2 separate regions of the Homo sapiens genome follow, and region 1 is reported to be linked to region 2. Evidence: microRNA targets listed by miRTarBase, many of them from high-throughput screens and not tested one by one. Region 2 holds a microRNA gene; the other region holds the end of a gene's coding sequence.
What was found. Region 2 holds the annotated microRNA hsa-miR-4770 (UGAGAUGACACUGUAGCU, at 3,331-3,348, opposite strand). A microRNA usually pairs through its seed, bases 2 to 8, with sites in the 3' UTR of a target mRNA and lowers its output. Matches are read on the target gene's strand: a 7mer-m8 pairs with bases 2 to 8, a 7mer-A1 pairs with bases 2 to 7 and ends in A, and an 8mer does both.

Region 1 (5,376 bases), not on the chromosome of region 2:
GAGACGGGGTTTCAACATGTTGGCCAGGCTGGTCTCGAAATCCTGACCTCAGGTGATCTACCCGTCTTGGCCTCCCAAAGTGCTGGGATTACAGGTGTGTGCCACCGCACCTGGCGGAACATTGGCTGCTAAAGGCTCACAGGAATGCTTTTTCCGCAAAGCTATTCTCAGCTGAATGGGAGCCTGCTCACCTAAGACACTACCCAACTCCACTGGGGTCAGCTCACAACCGGTGACAGCCTAAGAGAAGCCTGGACCCCTTGTGACAAGTTGGGATGACTCTGGTGCTGTTGACATCCCAGTGGTCTCTGTTGGGGTCAGGCTGAGGCTAGAGTCATCTGAGTCCATGCTCCTGCTCAATTCCTTCCCCTTCTCCATCTAGCTTCCCTCACCTCTCTCCTAAGAACATCCTTTAATAAATCCTACACACTCGAGTCCCTGAATCAGGCCCTGCTTTAAGCAAGAGCCCACATGATCTAAACAATTCCTAGAAGGTTGGGTTGGGAGGTTGTAAAAGAAAGAGTCCTTGGAAGACAAGACAGAAACTGACCAGATTCAGAAATTGATTAAGGGGCCAGGCACGGTGGCTCGTGCCTGTAATCCTAGCACTTTGGGAGGCTGAGGCGGGCGGATCACTTGAGGTCAGGAGTTCAAGACCAGCCTGGCCAACATGGTGAAACCCCGTCTCTACTAAAAATATAAAAACTAGCCGGGTGTGGTGGTGGACACCTGTAATCCCAGCTACTTGGGAGGCTGAGGCAGGAGAATTGCTTGAACCCAGGAGACAGAGGTTGCAGTGAGCCGAGATCACGCCACTGCACTCCAGCCTCAGCGACAGAGTGAGACTCTGTCTCCAAAACAAAACAAAACAAAACAAAAAACCCCCCAAAACCAGAAATTGATTAAGGGCCAGGCACGGTGGCTCACTGTGCCCGGCTTACAGGTGTAAGGCTCCACACACGGCCTAATATGGGTTTTGCCAAATGCGTAGTGCCAGGTATTCATCATTACAGTATTATACAGAAGAGTTTCACCACCCTAAAGATCCCTGTCCCTCTGCCCACTTTTTCCTCCATCCAGCTTCTGGGAGCCAGAGGAACCCAATAACATCCACGATGAGGACTGTGCTACCATGAACAAAGGTGGCACCTGGAATGATCTCTCTTGCTACAAAACTACGTATTGGATTTGTGAGCGGAAATGTTCCTGTTGAAGCCCAGGGCCGAGGCTGGGGGTCCATATCTGAGTGTCTCTTTGAGATGAGAATCTCCTGCCCTTTCGTGGACGGCCTTGCCTCTTCGTGAGTGGACACACAGATGTGCCTCAAACAGGATTGGCACCCTGGATGCAGCAAGTTCCCAGGGGTGCAAGTCAGGCTGTTTCTAGAGTGAGGACTTGGGCTTGCCCTAGTAGATGGTGAGCTGGGAGGATGCTCAGAGCTTGGTGGTGGGAGGTCTCCCACTTCTGGGGTTGAAAGGATCTTCACTAAGTTCCTGATCATGACTCTTGGGAAGTGATACTAGCCCTGAGGACCCTGGGGCTGGTGTTGAACCTGGGATGAAATATCCTGGCGCCTGTGAACCACAAAGAGCTGGGACTGGGCTCCTTTTCCTGCAGCCTCAAACTTCTGGGCTCAGGTGATCCTCCCATCTCAGCCTCCTGAGTAGCTGGGACTACACATGCGCACCACCATGCCTGGCCAATTTTTTGTAGCATTTAAAGAGAGGGAGTCTCACTATGTTGCCCAGGCCAGTCTCAAACTCCTTGCCTCAATGGATCCTCCTACTTGGGCTTCCCAAATTGTGAGGATTACAGGTGTGAGCCACTGTGCCTGGCTCAAAATTATTATTATTATTTTTATAGAGATGAGGTCTCACTCTGTTGCCGAGGCTGGTCTCAAACTCCTGGGGTCAAGCAATCCTTCCGTGATGGCCTCCCAAAGTGCTGGGATTACAGGCATGTGTCACCGTACCTGGCCGATATTTTTATTTTTATTTTTACTTTCCCCATCTTTTCCTTTTTTTTTTTTTTCCAAACAAAAGCTTTGAAAGTGGTGACAGAAAAATTTCCCTTTGAGCTAGACCTCTAGATCTGCCTCGCACAGAAATACATTAAGTGGGCTGGTCTCATGTAGTCCCCACATCATTGCAAATTACAAACCTAAAAATACAGAACATCAGCGGAGAAGACAGGAGAGCTTCTATATTCACCCCATGTCGTCCTCTCCAGACACTGCTTCCTTCCTGGTCTCAAACAGCACAAATAACCCAGAAACCATCAAAATTATTTTTGACCAGCAACTTTCTCAATGTCTTGGGTGAGGTTTGCACAAGCTAAGTGGCAGAATCAGACTTTTGCCAGAAGACTTGGCCCGTGGAACTTCTATCCTTTTTTTTTTTTTTTTTTTTTTTTGAGATAGGGTTTCATTCTACTACCCAGGCTGGAGTGCAGTGGCACAATCATAGCTTACTGCACCCTCTGCCTCCTGGGCTCGAGTGATCCTCCTGCCTCAGCCTCCCAAGTAGCTGGGACTACAGGCGTTCACCCTCACACCTGGCTGGCCCATGGAACTTCTAGAAAGGCATACCAGCTGAAAAGCAAGACCCCTACATAGTGTGGCCAGGCAGGCCATAACCTGGTCATATCCACACAGGACAACGATGGACCTATCTGCCAGCACGTGCCCTTGAGCTATCTGTGGGTTGTAACGTCTTTGATGATATAATTCACTTTACTTGCCAGGCACAGTGGCTCACGCCTGTAATCCCAGCACTCTGGGAGACTGAGGTGGGCTGATCACCTGGGGTCAGGATTTCGAGACCAGCCTGGCCAACATGGTAAAATCCTATCTCTACTAAAAATACAAAAAAATTAGCTGGGCGTGGTGGCATGTGCCTGTAATCCCAGCTACTCAGGAGACTAAGGCACGAGAATTGCTTGAACCCAGGAGGCGGAGGTTGCAGTGAGCCGAGATTGTGCCACTGCACTCCAGCCTGGGTGACAGAGCAAGACTCCATCTCAAATAAATAAATAAAAATAAAAATTCACTTTACTTCTGTGTGGACTTTCCTGGGCTATTAGCTCTTGCAATGTTAGTGCTTCTCAAAATGCCACTATGTTGGGTGTTCCTTGTCTACTGTGTGTTAGTTTGCTGGGGCTGCCATAACAAAGGACTGGGTGGCTTCAGCAACAGAATGCATTTTCTCACAGTTCCGGAGGCTGGATGTCCAAGATCAAGGTGTTGGCAGGGTTAATTTCTTCTGAGGCCTCCTGTCTTGGCTTGTAGATGATCCTCTTCTCCCTGTGTCTTCACCTGGTTCTCCTTCTGTGTGTCTGGGTCCTAATCTCCTCCTCCTCTTCTTTTGTTTTTGAGACAGGGTCTCGCTCTGTCACTCAGGCTGGAGTGCAGTGGTGTGATCTCAGCTCACTGCAACTTCCACCTCCCAGGCTTAAGCATCCTCCCGCCTCAGCCTCCTGAGTAGCTGGGATTACAGGTGTGCACCACCGTGCCTGGTTAATTCTTGTATTTTTTGTAGCAACGGGGTTTCACCATGTTGCCCAGACTGGTTTTGAACTCCTAGGCTCAAGCAATCTGCCCACCTTGGTCCCCCAAAGTGCTGGGATTACAGGCATGAGCCACTGTGCTGGGCCTACAACGACCACTTTAAAGATCCTGTCTCCAAATACAGCCATATTAGGAGGTCCTGGGAATTAGAATTTAAACATATGCATTTGGGAGGGGTGGCACAATTTGGCCCATAACATTCACAAACTGCCAGAGTGACCCCCACCCGACCCTCCTGCCCTGGCCATGTGACAACCAAAAAATACCAATTAGAGGGCTGGTACTACTCCCAGCTAGGCATAACTCAACATAGTATTCCCTTTGGACAATCCCTGAATTGCATCCAAGGGTGGGTAGACATTCTCCAAACCAATCAATTTATTTTTTTTTTTTTTGTGACAGAGTCTTGCTCTGTTGCCCAGGCTGGAGTGCAGCGGCGTGATCTCGGCTCACTGCAACCTCTGCTTTCCAGGTTTAACTGGTTCTTCTGCCTCAGCCTCCTGAATAGCTGGGATTTCAGGCACGTGCCACCATGCCTGGCTAATTTTTGTATTTTTAGTAGAGACAGGGCTTTGCCATGTTGGCCAGGCTGGTCTCGAACTCCTGACCTCAAGTGATCCGCCCACCTCAGCCCCCTAAAGTGCTAAGATTACAGGCGTGAGCCACCATGCCTGGCCTTATTTTATTTTTTGAGACAAGGTCTCACTCTGTCGCCCAGGCTGGAGTGCAGTGTTGTAATCATAGCTCACTGAAGCCTCAAACACCTGAGCTCAAGAAATCCTCCGTCCTCAGACTCCTGTATAACTAGAACTACAGGTGTGCCCCCACCACACCCAGCTAATTTTAATTTTTTTTTTTTTTTGTATAGACAGGGGTCTTGCTTTGTTGCCCAGACTGGGCTTAAACTCCTGGTCTCAAACAATCCTCCTGCTTCAGCCTCCTAAAATACAAGGATTGCGATCAATTTATTGATCAATAAGCTCCCTTAATCAATAGCAGAATCTTTCCTGTTTTGTCTGAGAACAGGTGCTTATAGCAAGGAGACTGTGAGGAGAGCAGGTGGTGGGAGAGGTCGGAGCTGATTTCACTTCCTGTTTCTTTGATTTGTTTTAAATCTACTTGTTCTTTTATTTCGTTATTAAAAAAATTTTTTTTGAGATGGAGTGTCACTCTGTCACCCAGGCTGGAGTACAGTGGCATGATCTCGGCTCACTGCAACCTCCTCCTCCTGGGTACAAGCGATTCTTGTGCCTCAGCCTCCTGAGTAGCTGGGATTACAGGTGTGCGCCACCACATCCGGCTAATTTTTGTATTATTAGTAGAGACGGCATTTCGCCACTTTGGCCAGGCTGGTCTCGAACTCCTGACCTCAAGTGATCCACCCGCCTTGGCCTCTCAAAGTGCTGGGATTACAGGTGTGAGCCACTGCACCCAGCCTCGTTATTTATTTTTAAGAGATGGGTTCTCAGGACGTGGCCCAGGCTGGAGTGCAGTGGCATTTCACAGGCACGACCCCACTACTGAGTTTTGGTTCTGTCTGTCCTCTCTTCTCACCTCTGCCCACCTCTGCAGCTGCCCTGATGCATCACTACCAAAGCCAGCTCCTGTACTGTCCGCAGCCTGCTGAGTGGGTGGGTGTCGTGTTGTAAACCCTCCACCCAGGGGACTGTTATGTCAAGCAACTTTATCTGGGGTCAGGGGAAGTTCCCACATTTCAGAAGAGGGAAGTTGTTTTCTGATATGCGTATTGAGAAATGGGGAAGCAGGGGTCTGTGGTCACGTCTCTAGGAGGCCCCTGGTGGAACTGGTCC
Region 2 (5,376 bases):
TCGTAGAGACAGGCCAGCCCTGTGGAATCACGTTGGTTTTTGAAAGGCACAAATGAAAAGATACACTGAGAAGCTTTGGAACACAAGATACATTTTATACGCCCTTTGCAGGGTCGTATTCAGCCAGAGTCCGCCACATTACAGACATAGAAGATTTTCAGGGTCTTCATGGAATTCTTGCTGGAAGTAACTGGTGCGTTGTTTTTGAAGCTTCCTTTGATCTTGAATTGGGTCTATCAGGTAAACACACTGACCTGTCTTCTTAGCAGCCAATTGCTGGTGACCTTTCCACAGCTTGTGTCCATCCAGGAGTTCAGCAAAAGCCTGGCCTTTCCTCCTGCTCTGAGCCCAGCTCTCTACCAGCCGCTTTGAATCCTTGCCTGGATGGTACCTACTTCTCTGCAGAGGCAAATCAACACAGTAGTGTCATGAATCTGTACTAGTTTATTAGTTTTAGTTTTCTAGGACCGCTGTAACAAATCATTACAAACTGGGTGGTTTAACATAATAAAAATTATATCCTCTGCCAGTCCTGGAGAACAGGAGTCTGAGAACAAGGTATGGGCAGGGTGGCATGCCCTCCGGAGGCTCTAGGGGAGGACTCTTCCTGCCTCTCCCAGGTCGTGGGGGCTTCAGATATCCCTAGGCTTGTGGCCATATCACTTGTCTCTGCCTCTGTCTCTATGTGGCACGTGGCATTTTCCTCTGTGTCCATGTCTCCTCTTCTGTCTCTTAGAAGGACACTGGTCATTGAATTAAGGCCACCGTAAGTCAGAATAATCTCATCTCCAGATCTGACTTTAATTACAAATCTGCAAAGACTATTTTTCTAAATAACGTCATATTCCGGGTTCTGGGCTTTATGATGTGGATTTATCTTTCTGGAGGCAACTGTTCAATCCACTACAATTGTATCCAGTCCTTTCCAGAGATGCTAGAGGAGGAACCTTCCTGCCTCTCCCAGCTCCTGGGGGCTCTAGGCTTCCCTGGGCTTGTGACCACATCACTGCACTCTCTACTTCCATCTCCACGTGGCCTTCTCCTCTGTGTATGTGTCTTATCTTTTCTGCCTCTTAGAAGGAATTTAAGATTACAACTGCTGCTAGATTTCCCCTTATTGCTCTGGTTAAGGAGTCCGTGGAGTCTCCTGTAGTATGAAAGGTTTCGTTTTACATTGCAGTCCCTTACAAGGAGGGCTTAGGCCAATGTCTGTGCTGACTTCCCTTCTACATCTCTGGATTCTGTCTCACCGGCTCCCTGTCATTTCCCCAAAGATGTCCTCCACCCACCTCATCCTACTCTTCATCCCTGCAACATCTGTCCTTTTTTTTTTTTTTTGAGACAAGATCTTGCTCTGTCACCCAAGCTGGAGTGCAGTGGTGCGATCATAACTCACTGCAGCCTTGATCTGAGTCCAAGCGACCCTCCCAGCTCAGCCTCCCAAGCAGCTGGGACTATAGGCGCTTGGCGATTTTTTGTTATTTTTTTGTAGAGATGGGAGTCTCCCTATGTTGCATAGGCTGGTCTCGAACTCCTGGGCTCCAGTGATCCTCCCACCTCAGCCTCCCAAAGTGCTGGGATTACAGGCGTGAGCCACCGCACCCAGCCGACACATTTAAAGAAATGTTTTGGCAACTTATCAAATACCCACAGATTGGATCTAATCATTTAAAAAACACAAACTTGGTTGTAGACTTTCTGTCCTTCTGAGGCCCCATGACTATGTAGTCCCAAACTATTCTCGCCGATCACAAAGGAACATTCTGTTTAGGGCTACTTTTACCTTTGCTTAGACCATCCCTTTATTCAATTAATGTTTGAAACATCATACAGTGGGGGAAACAGCCATGCTATGGAGTGCGCAATGTTTGTTAAAAATTAAACAACCACTCACCCCTCCTTGCCCCAGTGACCTTTTCTTATCTAATCTTTTTCTTGGCACCGGTAAAGAGAACAGCCTTTCTTCACATAATCGCTCCATGGCTTCTCAGCAGAACATAACCAACCGCCTTGCTGAGGTGGCCTAGGGTGACCGGGTCTTCCTATCTTTTGTGCAGAGCTCTTGTCATGCGCAGGAGTTTGGGGAGATGCCCCCCACCCCCCCGCAAAAGGTTTCCTATGGCTTTAAAATAAGAGGTAGTTCAGGAACATTAACTGTTCACTTTACATTTAAGATATGATCTCCTGGAGATGTTGATGTGCCAGCTGGTCTTGTTGAGAGGCAGTTACTGATCTAGCAGGTGTTTATAGATTTTACACCTGTCTTGTTCTTTTTTTTAAAAAGAAACAACCTGCAACTAACTAACTTTATTTCGTATGTTAATGAGACAGATGTGAAAGAACACAAAATCAAAATGCTTCCCAGGATTCACAGCTCTAGTGTTCCTTGGCTTTATGGTTTGGAAGGAAAGCTGATTTATATAGGCAGAGGCTCTCTATATAGGTCCTTACCTCCCCTGTCCTGTTGTTTTGGAATGTGAGCAGAACACACTCAGGTCTACTGTATGAATAGGACACCCTGCGCCCTGAAATTCCATCAGCTTCACAGATCTCTCGTGGATTCTCTCAGAGTGATGACTCCCTCTCCCTTTCTCCAGTGTCTGAACACTACGTGGTAAGGGACTTTCCACGCACAATATTACTCTCAGCAGACAGAAGATGCTTTCCTGGAGAAGAAAGCGGCAGTATCTTCCAGAGGCAATTGGAGTTTTCAAATGTTGGTGGAGTTATGGGGTTGAAGGCTCCAGCTTTACTGGGTAGAGTCTCACGCCTCACAGTGCGCTTGCCCTGGGGCCCACTGGCTGTGTGTGGGTGCTTGTCCTCAAAACTGTAGCAGCCCAGTGCCCCTGGAGAGCCACTTTACCCAGCATCACTATTAGGTGCTCTGCCAGCTCTGTGGCATGGAGAGGAATTGTCTGGTAAGAACGGAATGTTTTCCATTCTCTCCATCAAGAACTCGAAAGGCTGATTGACAGGTGCAAACGCAAATCTGGTCATCTAGGCTGAATTACAAGATGTCTGGTGGAAGTTAAGAGACTTCAGGAGGTATTAAGAGGGATGGAATACCTGGAATTCCTTGGGGGCCAGGAGAGTTGAGCCATCCTCAGAGATGTGTGCATACTGCAAACCTCCTTTAAGCCAGGGCACTGGTATTGTGGGAAGCCCAGTTAGGGATTAGAGGGATTCCAGAATTAAGATCAACAAAGCAGTCTGACACCCTTTGGGGTGCCAGAGATTATCACTTAGATTGAGGACAGGGGAAAGGGGGTACACTCAACTCAATTGCTTCCTATAAAATCTTACAGACATCAATGATCCCAGAGGATGGGGAGCTACAGTGTCATCTCAGATCATTTTCCAAGGGAAGGATAGATGACCCCATAACTCATTATCTCTAAGAGAGAATGAGATTCCACATGCAAGATAGGAATCAAAACCCTTTTCACCACCTTCATTGACTCAGTTATGCAAATGGCCCTAGCTCATAGCCTCTAAGCCCAGAGCAGACAGTGCATCCTGGTTGCTGATTGCATACCTCCTGATGGGTTGTAACTGTGTGCTTTACGGAGGGCTAGTGTAAACATTCTCATTGCAAAGCGTCTTGCATGGATGAGCAGACATAGAGTGGCATTTGCCGGAGCTGAGCACCCCTGACTTCAGAGTTCACGTTTGGCAAAGTGATTTGTTGCACTACTTGGCAATTGAAGCATCCCGAATAGCTTTGTTTTATGGGGTGGGGGGCGGGGGCGAGGGGAAGAGAGTGGAGCTTTCTGTCTCCCTACTAATCAGGAGGGTCCTTGTTTGGGCTTTAGGCCCCTTCCCTTGTTTTCTGGGCAGAGGAATTGCCCCTAGGAATCCTCTGCAGGCCCTGCCAGTTTCAGAGCTCCCTCATTTTCATCTCTCCACTTCAATGAGCTCATTCACTAAGGCTTTCCCACAGCCCAGGATCTGACTTGGGTGGGCCTGCTTGGGTTTTGTGTGCCTCTGTGCCAGGAAGAGAACAGGCACAGGGCTCTGCTTGGCTATTGCCGGCATTCCTGGGCTAGTGCGTCACGGGGTCTCATGGTGACAGCATTCCACTGGAAACACGGAGTCCCGGAACCCAATTTTGAAAGGAATCCTCTCTAAAAATCTTTCAGGAGGGAGAAAACAGAGATTTCAGAGAGTTAACAGTGCTCCTCAAAACAGCGTTTGTCAAGGAAATTAGTAGCGACTTGTATGACACCCTCTTTCTCCTGTGATTTCACTTTCCTAAATGTTGATTGCTCCGGGGTGTGGGGCTTTTTTCTTCTATACCCAAAGCCACCTAGTAGAAGGGTTAAGTGCATAGACTTTTTCCAGGCGATCTCTGTGTTCATAAAGAGAAGTGGGGAAAGGGCTCTAGTGTTTCAAATGTAAAGTAACCATTGTTAGGAAAATGACTTATTCTTTCTTTCATTCATTTATACAAATGTAAGTTCTGGCTATGCTTAGCTACTCAAGGGAAATCAGAGGCAACTGGGTCCTCTAGGGATGTTTAGCAATATCTGGACACGTTTTTTATTTGTCCTCGCTGGGAGGTTGTTCCTGGCATCTAGCAGGCAGAGGCCCAGCGATACTACAGGGCACATGCCAGCTTCCCATCATAAGAAATATCTCCTTCCAAATGTCAATAGTGGTGTTACCAGAAAGGGGTCTCTATCCAGACCCCAAGAGAGGGTTCTTGGATCTCGCACAAAAAAGAATTTGAGGTGAGTCCATAGAGTAAAGTGAAAGCAAGTTGATTAAGAAAGTTAAAAAAAAAAAAAAAAAGAATGGTTACTCCACTGAGCTGCTCCACCGAGGATACTTATTATTACTCCTTCATTATATGCCAAACAAGGGGTGGACCATTCATGAGATTTCCAGGAAAGGGGTGGGCTGTTCCTGGAGCTGAGGGTTCCTCCCTTTCTCAGACCATGTAGTGTAACTTCTGGATGTTGCCATGGCATTTGTAAACTGTCATGGCGCTGGCGGGAGTGTCTTTTAGCATGCTAATACATTATAATTAGCATATAATGAGCAGTGAGGATGACCAGAGGTCACTTTTGTTGCCATCTTGGTTTTGGTGAGTTTTGGCCGGCTTGTTTACTGCAACCAGTTTTGTCAGCAAGGTCTTTATGACTTGTATCTTCTGCCGTCCTCCTATCTCATCCTGTGACTAAGAATGCCTAACCTTCTGGGAATGCAGCCCAGCAGATCTCAGCCTTACTTTCCCCAGCCCCTATTCAAGATAGTGGAGTTGCTCTGGTTCAAACGCCTCTGACAGTGGGATGGTTGAGAAACTTGGGGGTAGACCAAGGGCAAGGCAGCAATCTCAGCCTGTGGAAAACATTTTAGTAGATGCCATTGTAATGT

Region 1: the mRNA of CLEC17A is a reported target of hsa-miR-4770. Seed matches in the 3' UTR shown: 7mer-A1 at 1,648-1,654 and 7mer-A1 at 3,015-3,021.

Annotation. Positions count from the first base shown.
Region 1 is chr19:14,608,984-14,614,359 of GRCh38, forward strand. CLEC17A (C-type lectin domain containing 17A) reads left to right here. Exons shown (of 14, transcript NM_001204118.2): 14 at 1,081-3,052. The coding sequence ends at 1,213. It also overlaps a transcript of ADGRE3 not described here. Among named protein-coding and RNA genes, the nearest start is that of SNORA104, 11 kb to the right of the region's middle. RefSeq lists a silencer at 5,243-5,292.
Region 2 is chrX:6,380,577-6,385,952 of GRCh38, forward strand. It overlaps MIR4770 (microRNA 4770), which reads right to left and starts at 3,387; the gene lies at 3,330-3,387.